Linked DNA regions of Homo sapiens: region 1 is linked to region 2. Evidence: fine-mapped expression QTL. A gene starts in region 2. The other region holds a variant in brackets. All regions are shown on one strand. Distances are between the middles of the regions. Region 1 has its middle 40 kb from the start of LINC02946. Region 2 holds the start of MRPS9 (mitochondrial ribosomal protein S9).

What was found. PIP is the estimated chance that this variant, and not a neighbour inherited with it, causes the effect. A credible set is the group of variants that fine-mapping cannot tell apart.
Region 1: its variant is the best candidate, but not a certain one, in a credible set for the expression of MRPS9 in ovary (GTEx, PIP 0.84).

What each region holds. Positions count from the first base shown.
Region 1 is chr2:105,567,589-105,572,968 of GRCh38, reverse strand. No RefSeq gene overlaps it. Among named protein-coding and RNA genes, the nearest start is that of LINC02946, 40 kb to the left of the region's middle. The variant A/G (reference allele first, on the strand shown) is at 2,794.
Region 2 is chr2:105,035,968-105,041,347 of GRCh38, reverse strand. It overlaps MRPS9 (mitochondrial ribosomal protein S9), which reads right to left and starts at 3,279. Exons shown (of 11, transcript NM_182640.3): 1 at 3,121-3,279. The coding sequence starts at 3,255. MRPS9-AS2 (MRPS9 antisense RNA 2) reads left to right here and starts at 2,852. Exons shown (of 3, transcript NR_110603.1): 1 at 2,852-2,894. RefSeq lists enhancers at 2,297-3,239, 2,993-3,322, 3,493-3,542, 3,593-3,642, 3,663-3,872.

The sequences.
Region 1 (5,380 bases), 530 kb before region 2:
CCACCCCACCTCCCCCCATTCTACTCAGAGAGAACACTCAAGCAAGAGGAAATTGGAGGAGGGACTTTGCTGTTTCCTCAGATCGCCTTGGTCCCAGGCTCCCCCCATTGGGTAGAATGTGAGTCTAGGGTGGACAGAGGTCTCTTTTGTGCACATATGCCCCGAAATGCAGGCCAATGACATCACCTGGTGCCCAGGTTGGGAACAGGCTCTGGAGGAGATGCCAGTGTGCGGGGTCATGGAGCATGGCTCAGGGCACACCTCCTCAAACCGGCTGTAGTGAAAACCAGTGTCCTCCACCTCTCCCAGACCCCTGAAGGTCCAACAGTCCCTGACAGCACGTGACTCATACTGCCTGCATCTCAGCACATGCTGAACAGCACCTGCCCTGGTCTCAGACCCACCCACAAGCCAAGGCCACTGATTGCAGCTAGTGGCTGCTGCAGCCACGCCAAAGGCACAAGTTTCTACTCACTTGACTCTCATTTCTGTGCTTTTCTCATTGAGGGCTGGTAACAGACAGTCAGAGACCAGCCCTACCCATAGACCTCACTTTGAGGAGCCACGTGTCCTATTGAGATAACTTAGAGGGTATTCAGAATGGAGGCTGAATGAGACATCCCCCTTCCTTCACTCCTAAGCCCTACCCAAGACAGGCCTCCCCTCGGTAGAGAACACCACCTTTCCCTGTGTGTCTTCTTTCCAGTCCTTTCACCATTGGTTCTCCCTTCCTTAACCAACCTCTCTTCCCCAAATTCCCACCACACATCTCTAGCCTGGCCATCCCAGCCTTCTTGCCCTCCTAGCAGCAGAGTCATTCTTGCAGACATGACCTTGCCTTTTTCAAACTGTGACACAACCCAATATGACCAGACCTTGCTTTGTTTCATGGGGTCTTAAGTTTTAAAGAAATAAAACAGTGAGCCCGTTTGCTCCTTCATATAGGCTCTGGGGTCCTAATGGGAAGGGCTGGCAGGTGAGTGGGGAGAGGGAAAGGTGAGAAGGGGGAGTCAGCCTCATGGGGGGCATTGGGTAGGTGTAAGGAGAAAGCCAGTGGCCAGTGAGGACAGCCACACCTGCCAAGGACAGCCAGGAGGCCCCTCAGGGCTACCAGGGACACCTCAGCCTCAAACCAGGGCAGAAGAAGACCACACGTTTCTCTTCCTCTTCAGATCTTCCTCTTCTCAGCCGCGTTGTGGTAGTAATTGAAGGAGTTGGTGGTTGGTGATTACTCAGTGTAATGCTACTGATGAAATCGGTCATTCCGTGCCTGCCACACATCCAGGCCTCTCAGTTCTGACCCTGCTGCCCCAAGGCCTCCACAGGGACCCTTGGAATGTCCTGCTTTGCTGGCTTCCTGGAAAACTGGGGCTCTTGGTGACACTGGATCGCACTGGATCGCCCTGTATCCTTTTGTTCGTACTTCATATTTTGCAAGCACTGTGGCTGCAAGTTGAATGAGAACAATTCGAATGTCCATTGACAGTTGAATGGGAGAACAGAATGTGGTCTAGACATGCAGTGGAATATTATTCAGCCTTGAGGAGGAGGGAAGCCCTGACACATGCTACAATATGGATTAATCTTGAGGACATTACGCTGAGTGAAATAAGCCATCACAAAAGGAAAAATACTGCATGATTCTACTTGTATGACGTCCCTAACATCCCTAGAGTAGTCAGATTCACAGAGACAGAAAGTAGAATGGTGGGGGGTGGGTGTCGGGCTGGGAGGAGGAAGAAGGGGAGTTAGCATTTAATGGGTGCAGAGCTTGGGATGACAAAAATGTCCTGTAGGTGGATGGTGGTGATAGATGCACAGCAAAGTGAATGTACTCAATGCCACCGAACTGTATTCTTGAAAATGTCAAAAATAGAAATTGCATATTACATCTATTTTACCATAATTTTAAAAAGTTAAATTAACAAACACTTCATTGTGTTTGTTGTGCAGCTTTTAATGAAGACTCAGTCAGCACACATGGAGCACCTGCCTGGCCGCGGTCATGCCAACCCTGTTCCAGGAGCCAGCAGTGCAGCTGCAAGGCACCTTCTGTCCTGCAGGGACTTAGATTCCAGGGGAGGACAGGGGAGGAGGCAGAGAAACAAAAACAAGCAGTAATTTTAGGTAGCCATAAGTGATGGGTAGAAAAATAAGGCCAGGTAGGAGGCCGCAGAGGAAAGCTGGTAGGGGAGGGAGAGTATTCTTGATAGAGATTGAAGGGCCAGGAAAGCCCCCCAAACCCCACTCCAAGAGGTGGGATTTGAGCAGAGATCTTGGTGAATTTGGTGATGGAGGGGTGTGCAATCTGGTGCAGAGGCTCTGGGGGAGAGAATATTCAAGAACAACAGGGAGACCCTGTGATGGGACTCAGTGGGAAAGGCATGGAGTAGAAGGCGGTGGATCTGGAAGGGAGCGACACCGGGTGGTGTCGGAGCCTGTGCACCGCAGCGTGTCACCAGGTGTTGCTCTGAGGGGATGGGAAGCCCCTGGAGGGTGAGCATGCTCACCTATGGAGCCGCAGGGCTGAGTTAACAAGTTTCTTCCGGCTGCTGTTTGTGGCCTCTGCTGCAAGGAGGAAGAGAGAAGGAGCACTGGAGATGCATTTGGGGGTTGGTACAATGTTCAGAGGATGTTGGCAGTGTGGGCCGGCATGCTGGGATGGAGTTGGTAAGAAGGGGTTGGTCACAATATATTTCAACATTAGAGCCAGCAGGACCTGAGGATAAAATCGATGTGAGGTGTGAGGGAAAGAGAGGGCTCAGTGTGCTCTGCACACCTTCCGGAGGGGGC[A/G]GTTACAGAACGGCGGGGCTATTGTCTGAGAGAGGGGATCTCGGGATGGAGGAGTCATGCAAGTGTGGCTGTGTGATGGCTGAGGCTGGCTAGACATCCAGGTAGGGATGGCATGTAGGAAGTTGGAAATCGCAGTCTGGCTGAGGATTTTCAATTACTGCATGGAGATGGCATTCATAATTTAAAGCCACAGGAGATGAGAGATTACCTAAGAAGCGAGGGTACCCAGAGACTAGGATGAAACCCTGGGGCTCTCCATGGTTCAGATGCCATGTTTCTCTCCATGAGGCCAAGACAAGTAGGTCCTTCTGCATCCTGCTCCTCACTCACAGTGGCTGACGGGCTGAGGCATCTTCCTACTCGGCCGTTCCCAGCTCTGCGGCTCCCTGTTGCTGGGTATTCCTCTATGTGCTGCTTCCAGCTCAGGCATTCTCAGCCCTGGCTATACAATAGAATCACCCCGGCAGCCTTTCAAAAATACCATTGCCCTGGGACCATTCTGTATAAATTGAAATAGAATCTTTGGGGTGGGATGCAAAGCCTCTGGATATTTTGAAAAGGCAATTCTGATGCACAGTTGAGGTTGAGAACAGCATATTCCACGCGACTTGGTGCACATGGATGCATGTGTGCATTTTGGCTTGTCCCACAACCTGCTGTGGAGGATCTCTGGGTTCTTTAAAAAGAATGTCTTATGACAAAGCATGGTGGTTCATTCCTGTAATCCCAGCACTTTGAGAGGCCTAAGCAGTTGGATCACCTGAGGCCAGGAGTTCAAGACCAGCCTGACCAACATGGTGAAACTCTATCTCTACCAAAATTACAAAAATTGGCCAGGGGTGGTGGTGTGTGCCTATAATTGCAGCTACTCAGGAGACTGAGGCAGGAGGATTGCTTGAACCTGGGAGGCAGAGGTTGCAGTAAGCTCAGATCGCACCACTACAATCCAGCCTGGGCAACAGAGTGAGACTCCAACTCAAAAAAAAAAAAAAAAAAAAAAAGAAAGAAAGAAAGAAAAAAGAAAAAGAAAAGAAAAAAAAGTCTTACAGCTGGTCTGCCTGTTCTCAAGCTTCTGTGGTCTTAGATATTAGATCCAGGTGGATTTGTCACGATAACTGGACCACAAGAAAAAAAAAATAAAACCCAAGATATATCTTACAAGAAAACACTTGTAAATTGTTCTCCTTTTTTATATTGGTCTGTTGGGTATAATTTCAGCCATTTTTCTGTGCATTTAAAAGCATTTTTATGCACAAATGTAATATATTGTTTTGTTTGGGGTGGGTGTATATATTTATACTAAATATATAACACTACAATTTGCCTTTCTTTTTTCACTTTAACAACATGACCAGGAACTCTTTTGATAGGGGAATGCGAAGGCCTGGTCTGTAGACCCTAGTATATATGGCTACATTTAAGTTTAATTAAAATTAAATAAAATTTCAAATTCAGTTCCTCCATCATGCTAGCAGCCGTGTCTCAAGTGCCTGGTGGCCACATGTGGCCATGGCTGTCACACCGGACAGCACAGATAGTGAACATTTCCATCGTCACAGAAAGTCCTACGGGACAGCGCTGGGTAGGGCATTCTTAGCTAAGGCGTCCTCACCCATAGCATGGATGTGTAAGAGTTAGAAAAAGAATTTTTTTTTTCAAACCTTCAGTGAAGAGAAAAGAACACTTTAGTGAGGTCTTTCATGTGAAAAAGTAGGTCACAGCAAATAGTTTCTCCAAGGGGCGGAAATCAATTCCGTGAGAGTATGAGGTGGCAGCGAGGCATTTAGAGCTCAAAGACTTCTCTGCAAATGGTTGTTTCGCCCTTGCTTGGAGGTTTTTAGATTCCCTTGCCACCTTTGTCATCTGCAAACCGTAACGACACCCCTCACACCCTGGTGTTTTCCTGACTGCCTCAAAGGCTCTCCTTGCACACCGCACCCCACCGTCTTTCACTGCGATGCTGCCTCCGTATTCATGGGCTTCCCGTGTCCGCTGCTCTGTAAACAGTCTGGCGAAGACCTATTCTGCAGGGGTGTCATTTATTCTAAGGTGAGAGAATGCATATGGATGAGAGTGCCTCAACGAGAGAGCATAGCTGTGTGCTCTCCGGTGTCCAGCACTGACCCGATGATAGCATTTAACTCTCCCTGGGAGGGGACGCAGTGCTTTAAAAACATTCCAGACGCTCCCTAATGGTTTTGCCTGAGTCTCTGGCATCAGAATTGGCAGGTTCTTGTCTACAGGTATTGAATGCACAGGGTCTCACTTCTTACTGAGAAACTACAGACACAGGGGGCAATGAGAAAGGAAGAAGCCCCAAACGCAGCTGACTTATAACTAAATGTTTAAACACTTAAAATGTTTAAACACAACACACATTCTGAGTTTGGATGGATACTGTGTGGAATGTTTAGTTAAATGAATCATGCTTATGCTGTTTTTTTTTTTTTTTTGAGATGGAGTCTCGCTCTGTCACCCAGGCTGAAGTGCAATGGTGCGATCTTGGCTCACTGCAATCTCCGCCTCCTGGGTTCAAGCGATTCTCCTGCCTCAGCCTTCTGACTAGCTGGGACTACAGGTGCCCACC
Region 2 (5,380 bases):
GAAAACACCCTATTAGTGTTTTGTAGAAATATTTTTCAAAATAGCAATTGGTCTTTTGTTTTTCCTTATTATAAAAATCACAAATATTATAGAAAACCAAATTAGCATTCCTATATTAGCTATATTGATAGAGGATTTATGAATTCATGGGTAACCTTTGTAGTACAGCATGGAAGGAAACTGTCAACTGCTCATAATAATGCTAACACTATTTTCATTTGTGAGAGGTAAAAAATTCAGCTACCTTAGCATAGCAAAACAGATCATACTGATTCCTGCCAAACTTTCCAGACCTGTCTCTGCACCATTCTCTCACCAAAACCCTATGCTATAACCAATTGTTGCTGACAAAGCCCACTATTACTCAGTACATCTCTATACCCTTATGCACCTATTATATCTTCCTTGAATAGAATAGCTTTCTGTTTTCATATAACTCCTATTTGCTGCTAAAGACGCTATTTTCCTTTGCCTCCTCTGGGAAGCTGCCCATGACAATCCTCTACCTGGTCAACAACTCTAGTCTGACTCAGGCATATTACTTCTGTGCTCTTCTGTATTTACCTCTGTAAATATCACAGTACACCATAGATCCCTGATATTCATGGATATACAATCTGAAAAGTTTGGCCATTCATAAGACTGCCTCTTCTGCCCCAAATTTGGGACACTCAGACATTTGCAATTGTATTGAGGCATTAATACAAAACATGCATACCACAAGATTGCTATGCAAGAGGTAGTCTGCTAGTGAAGGTCTCAACTGAGAACCTAGGAATAGCTTAACAAAACTCGCTTCTTTTTCCTTATTGTAACAGTGTTTCTCAAACTTGTTAAACTGTGACCCATTGTAATATTTACTGTTTATATCACCACCTAGTATACATTTACATATATAAACAAAATGCAAAAATACTCTGCATGAAATGCACTTTATTATTATTCTATTCTCCCACACCCTTCAAGTTTTCTGTAACCTCTGAAGAGATTTTGTAATTAAGGAAATTAAAAGTGGAACAAACAAAAGACCAGGTATAGTGTTTTGTCACTCATTAAGTGATTAAAATTTTTATTATTTTATAAAACATGGGCTACCAAGAGAAATCTATCTATTAATGTTGGAGGCAGAAGTGAAAAAATGTTAATGTTTAAGACAGATAAGCTCTGCACCACGATAAAAAAAAAAGCTTTATCAATGTCTTTAGGTATATGTATGCAATCATAAGAATCTAAAGGGGGGTCAGCTAAGTGTTTCAGTTATATCTGAGCTGTACTTAATGTGGTAAAATATATGCTGTAGTAGTATTCAGGAATCTGGGGATTCAGCCATTTCAGGACCATCCCTTAAGAGTGCTAAGGGTGGATACTATCTTGTAATTGTTTGACTTTAAATTGTTTACTTCACAGTGCCTGGCTCAGGTAAAGTGCTCAGTAAACATTTGCCATATGGGGGAAAGAGGTTGTTTCAAGAATGGTCAAGGAGATGAAAATTAAAGTAACAGGAGAAATCATTCTTCATCCATTTTACTAAACCAGTACTTAAGAACTAGACCAGATGTTTACTGAAACTTTATTAGTGCAAAGAAAGTAGAAACAAAGCAAATGTCCATCAATTGTTACATTAACTTTGATATATTCTTATCATGGAATAGTATGCAGCAGTTAAAAATGCTTTTAAAAACATAATAGGGGACCCTGAAGGATTTCTACTTTACAATATACTGCATATGTACAAGAGAAAAGCAGAAAGTAAAATGCAATCAAATATGGTACCATTTTTTGTAAAGTACACCTGTGCATGTATGTTTATGCATGATTATAAGAACATGGAAAAAACATAGAAGAATAGATACCAGGAGGGACAGAAAGTTAGCCATCCCCCAATACATACATTAAATGTCAACAATAAAAATACTCTGTATGATATAGTCCCTCTCATAATCATGCGTATGTAGCAAAGATATACTCAAAGAGATGCATGAAAAAATAAAAATTTCTAGCACATTTTCCAGTAAGAAAAAAAAAAAAAACAAATGTCCACATGAATAGATAGAATGGACTGGTTGATCTAGATTAAAATATAAAGGAAAGAACATACAAAAAGATGTTTTTTTTTTTAAATATAGTTTTTAAAGTATGGTATTTGACTTTCCTGCAATAATTGGTACTTGTTATCACTCTCCCTCCTTGAAACATTCACCTGTTTTCCATGACACCACACTGGCTGGTTTCTCTCCTGCTTCTTTGGTCCCTCATTCTCAATCTCTTGAGGCCTCTTATTTCTTATTTGTCCTTCAGGGCCCTGTCCCTCTGCCTACTCCTCAGTACACTCTCCCTAGGTAATTTAATTTGTTTACAAGGCCTCAGTTACCATTTACAAGGTAACAGGGCATTTCGAAATCAGTTCTCCTCCTGAGCTATACACTTGACTATCCGTAGACCTACTGGAAATCCCAGATGCCTAAAAACATAATCCCATACTAAACTCGTTTCTTCCCTCTCAAATCTTTTTCCTGCTCTGAGATCGCATGTCAGTAAACTGGCATCATCAGCCATCCAGCTGTTGACTCCCCACTTCTCCCTGGATTAAACGAAACGTACAAGTTCTGGCCTGCATCTTTCCATAGAGGGGGATTCGGGAAAATTAAGAAGCCAGAAATTGCGCATATTGAAGGCACTTTCAAAAAGTCACTGTCCTCTACACAACGTGACTTTCTCCATTGTCTTCCAGGCACCTGCAGGAATCCAATTCCCATCATTCTTCTCTGGCGCGGCCCTCCTCCTCCCTAGACAGCAGGGCAGGGTAGGACTGGACCCAACACAGACCTAGGCACCGACCCTTACTTAGCTCAGCAGCCAAATGAAGGAGGAGGTCGCTCCACTTCTACCTTCAGGTAAGTTCCCCTCGCTGCACCCCGCAAAAAAACAAGTAACAACCTCTAGAGCGGCTACTGCACGCCAATACCCACCTCCTCCCCCCCAACCTCAGACCTCCACTAAATACCTAAGATCCTAGAGTCCCTGCCTGAAGGCACGCGAGACGCTGGGGGAAGGTGTCCGCGCTGGCTCCACATCCTCGCGCGGCAGAGGTAAGCCGCTTCCAGTCTTCCCAGGCCTTACCTGGGATCTGACATTTGTTTGCAACTCAGGGGCCGCGGTTTTCCAGAGGCCTTGCTTCCGGGCGAGGCTACCCCTACCCCAGAGAAGAAGCCGGTACGAAACTGCTCCGCCGTAGGACACACAGGGCGCCGCCATGTTAGCTGTGGGAGCTCCAGGACCGGAGGGGTGAGGGGGCGGGGCCTAGAGACGGCGCAGGCGCTAATGGCGCGGGGTTCCAGAGGCTGTCCTGTGCAAGAGCTTCTCGGGCCTTTGGATCAGGGGGCGTGTCCCGCGATCCGCGACAGCTCGTCGCTGATTGGGTGCATGGTGTCCGCGGGGCGTATCCGACTCCACCCCTGCTCGGTGTCGACCTCAAGAAGGATCGCTGGTGGGTCGTTTTTCTCGGCCTCTTTCTCTTCACGTCCTGAACTCAGTCTCTTCGGGACTCACTTCCACGCTCTCCTAGTCTCTTTGGCACTCACATCCACGTGGCGCTTTAGCCAGCCCTTCCTTCCCAGCCCCCTTGCTGCACCTCGAGCCGGCTCTTCCTCCACCTGGGCAGGGCGGCCGGGGCCCCAGATGCGCTCCAAGCCTTGATTCCTGTCTGCCTTATCCTAGTAGGGGTTTTCCCCTCCTCTAACTTTCCACGTTCGTCTGGTTCCAAGTCAAGACTCTCCTGCAGCAACTGTCAAGCCCCTCTCGGTTCCCTGGCACTCTCCTGCGTTGTTTCTTAACTGTATAATGCACAGGATAAACCTTAAACCGGTAAGGTCAAACACTACCTTTCTCGTTTTTGCACGCCCCTCCCTAAGCGTTGGTACTAAGCCTTACTTGAAACCCAATCAGAACTGATTAATTGTTGAATAGAGATGAGTATGTCTTGCTTTCTGAAACTTGCGTGCTCCTGGCAGTTAACTCCCAGGTTGCTTTCTACGAAACACATACTAAATGATGTAGTAACGCACTTTAAAAGGGTTTACACACACTTAGATTTGAAGGGTCAGTAAAAGTAAAACACACAGAAAATCTGAGATCATACAAAGTTGTCAAGCAAATAAATGCCGTCTACTATCACCATCATTTCACGAAACAGAACTTTTTAGCATTAAAAAGGTAGAATGGCAGAATTTCACAATAAAGAAAAATCTTTTAAATGGAATACATTTACTTGTATAAAATGCTCATCCTGTTGTTCTTTTTGTTATTAGCTTTTAGACTAGCAAAAGATATCTTGAGAAATTGGCAGAGGTCGGAGGACTAAACTCTGATTTTTTTATCTTGCCCAAGATTCCTATCTACAGGATTTGGGGAGTCATGCCCTACAAATCATAAATTCTTATTAGATGGGTTTTACTTAACCCTATATATGGTGACTTACTTTCCAACCTGACTCTGGCATAACATTACAAGACAAGGAAGAAAATCAAAATATTTTACCCCAAAACATGTTTCTTTGCCATATCTTGAAATGGCCCTGCAAAGCTGTCCTTGGAGGGGTGGGATATGCATCTGTAAAGAATCTGTATTAACATAGCTAGATCTTTTTCTTCCAGACCCTCCCAATCCTAAAGAGATTAACTAAGATCTGAATAGGAAACATTTGTCATCCATTGTCTCTAAGGGCAGCCACTGTAAGACTTACAGAGAACTTTGGTCTCCACAATCTTTATCTTAAACTGAACATTCCCTTTCTATCAGTCCCAGGTCTTTCTGGACCAAACCAATGTATTTCTTAAATGTGTTTGATTGATGTCTCATGCCTCCCTAAAATGTATAAAATCAAGTTGCGCCCTGACCACCTTGGGCACAAATTCTCAGGACCTGCTGAGGACTGTGTCATGGGCCATGATCACTCATATTTGTCTCAGAATAAATCTCTTCAAAATATTTTACAGAGTTCGACTCTTTTTGTCAACGGATGGATAAACTAGCATTTGGGAATCAAGACTTTATTTATTTATTTATTTTATTTATTTTGAGATGGAAGTTCGCTCTTGTCGTCCAGGCTGCAGTGCAGTGATGTGATCTCGGCTCACTGCACCTTCTGCCTCCCGGGTTCAAGCGATTCTCCTGCCTCAGCCTCCCGAGTAGCTGGGATTATAGGTGCCCACCACCATGCCCAGCTAATTTTTGTGTTTTTAGTAGAGACAGGGTTTCGCCGTGTTGGCCAGGCTGGTCTTGAACTCCTGACCTCAGGTGATCTGCCCGCCTTGGTCTCCCAAAGTGCTAGGATTACAGACGTGAGCCACCGCTTGCAGCAGAGAACCAAGACTTTATAGCT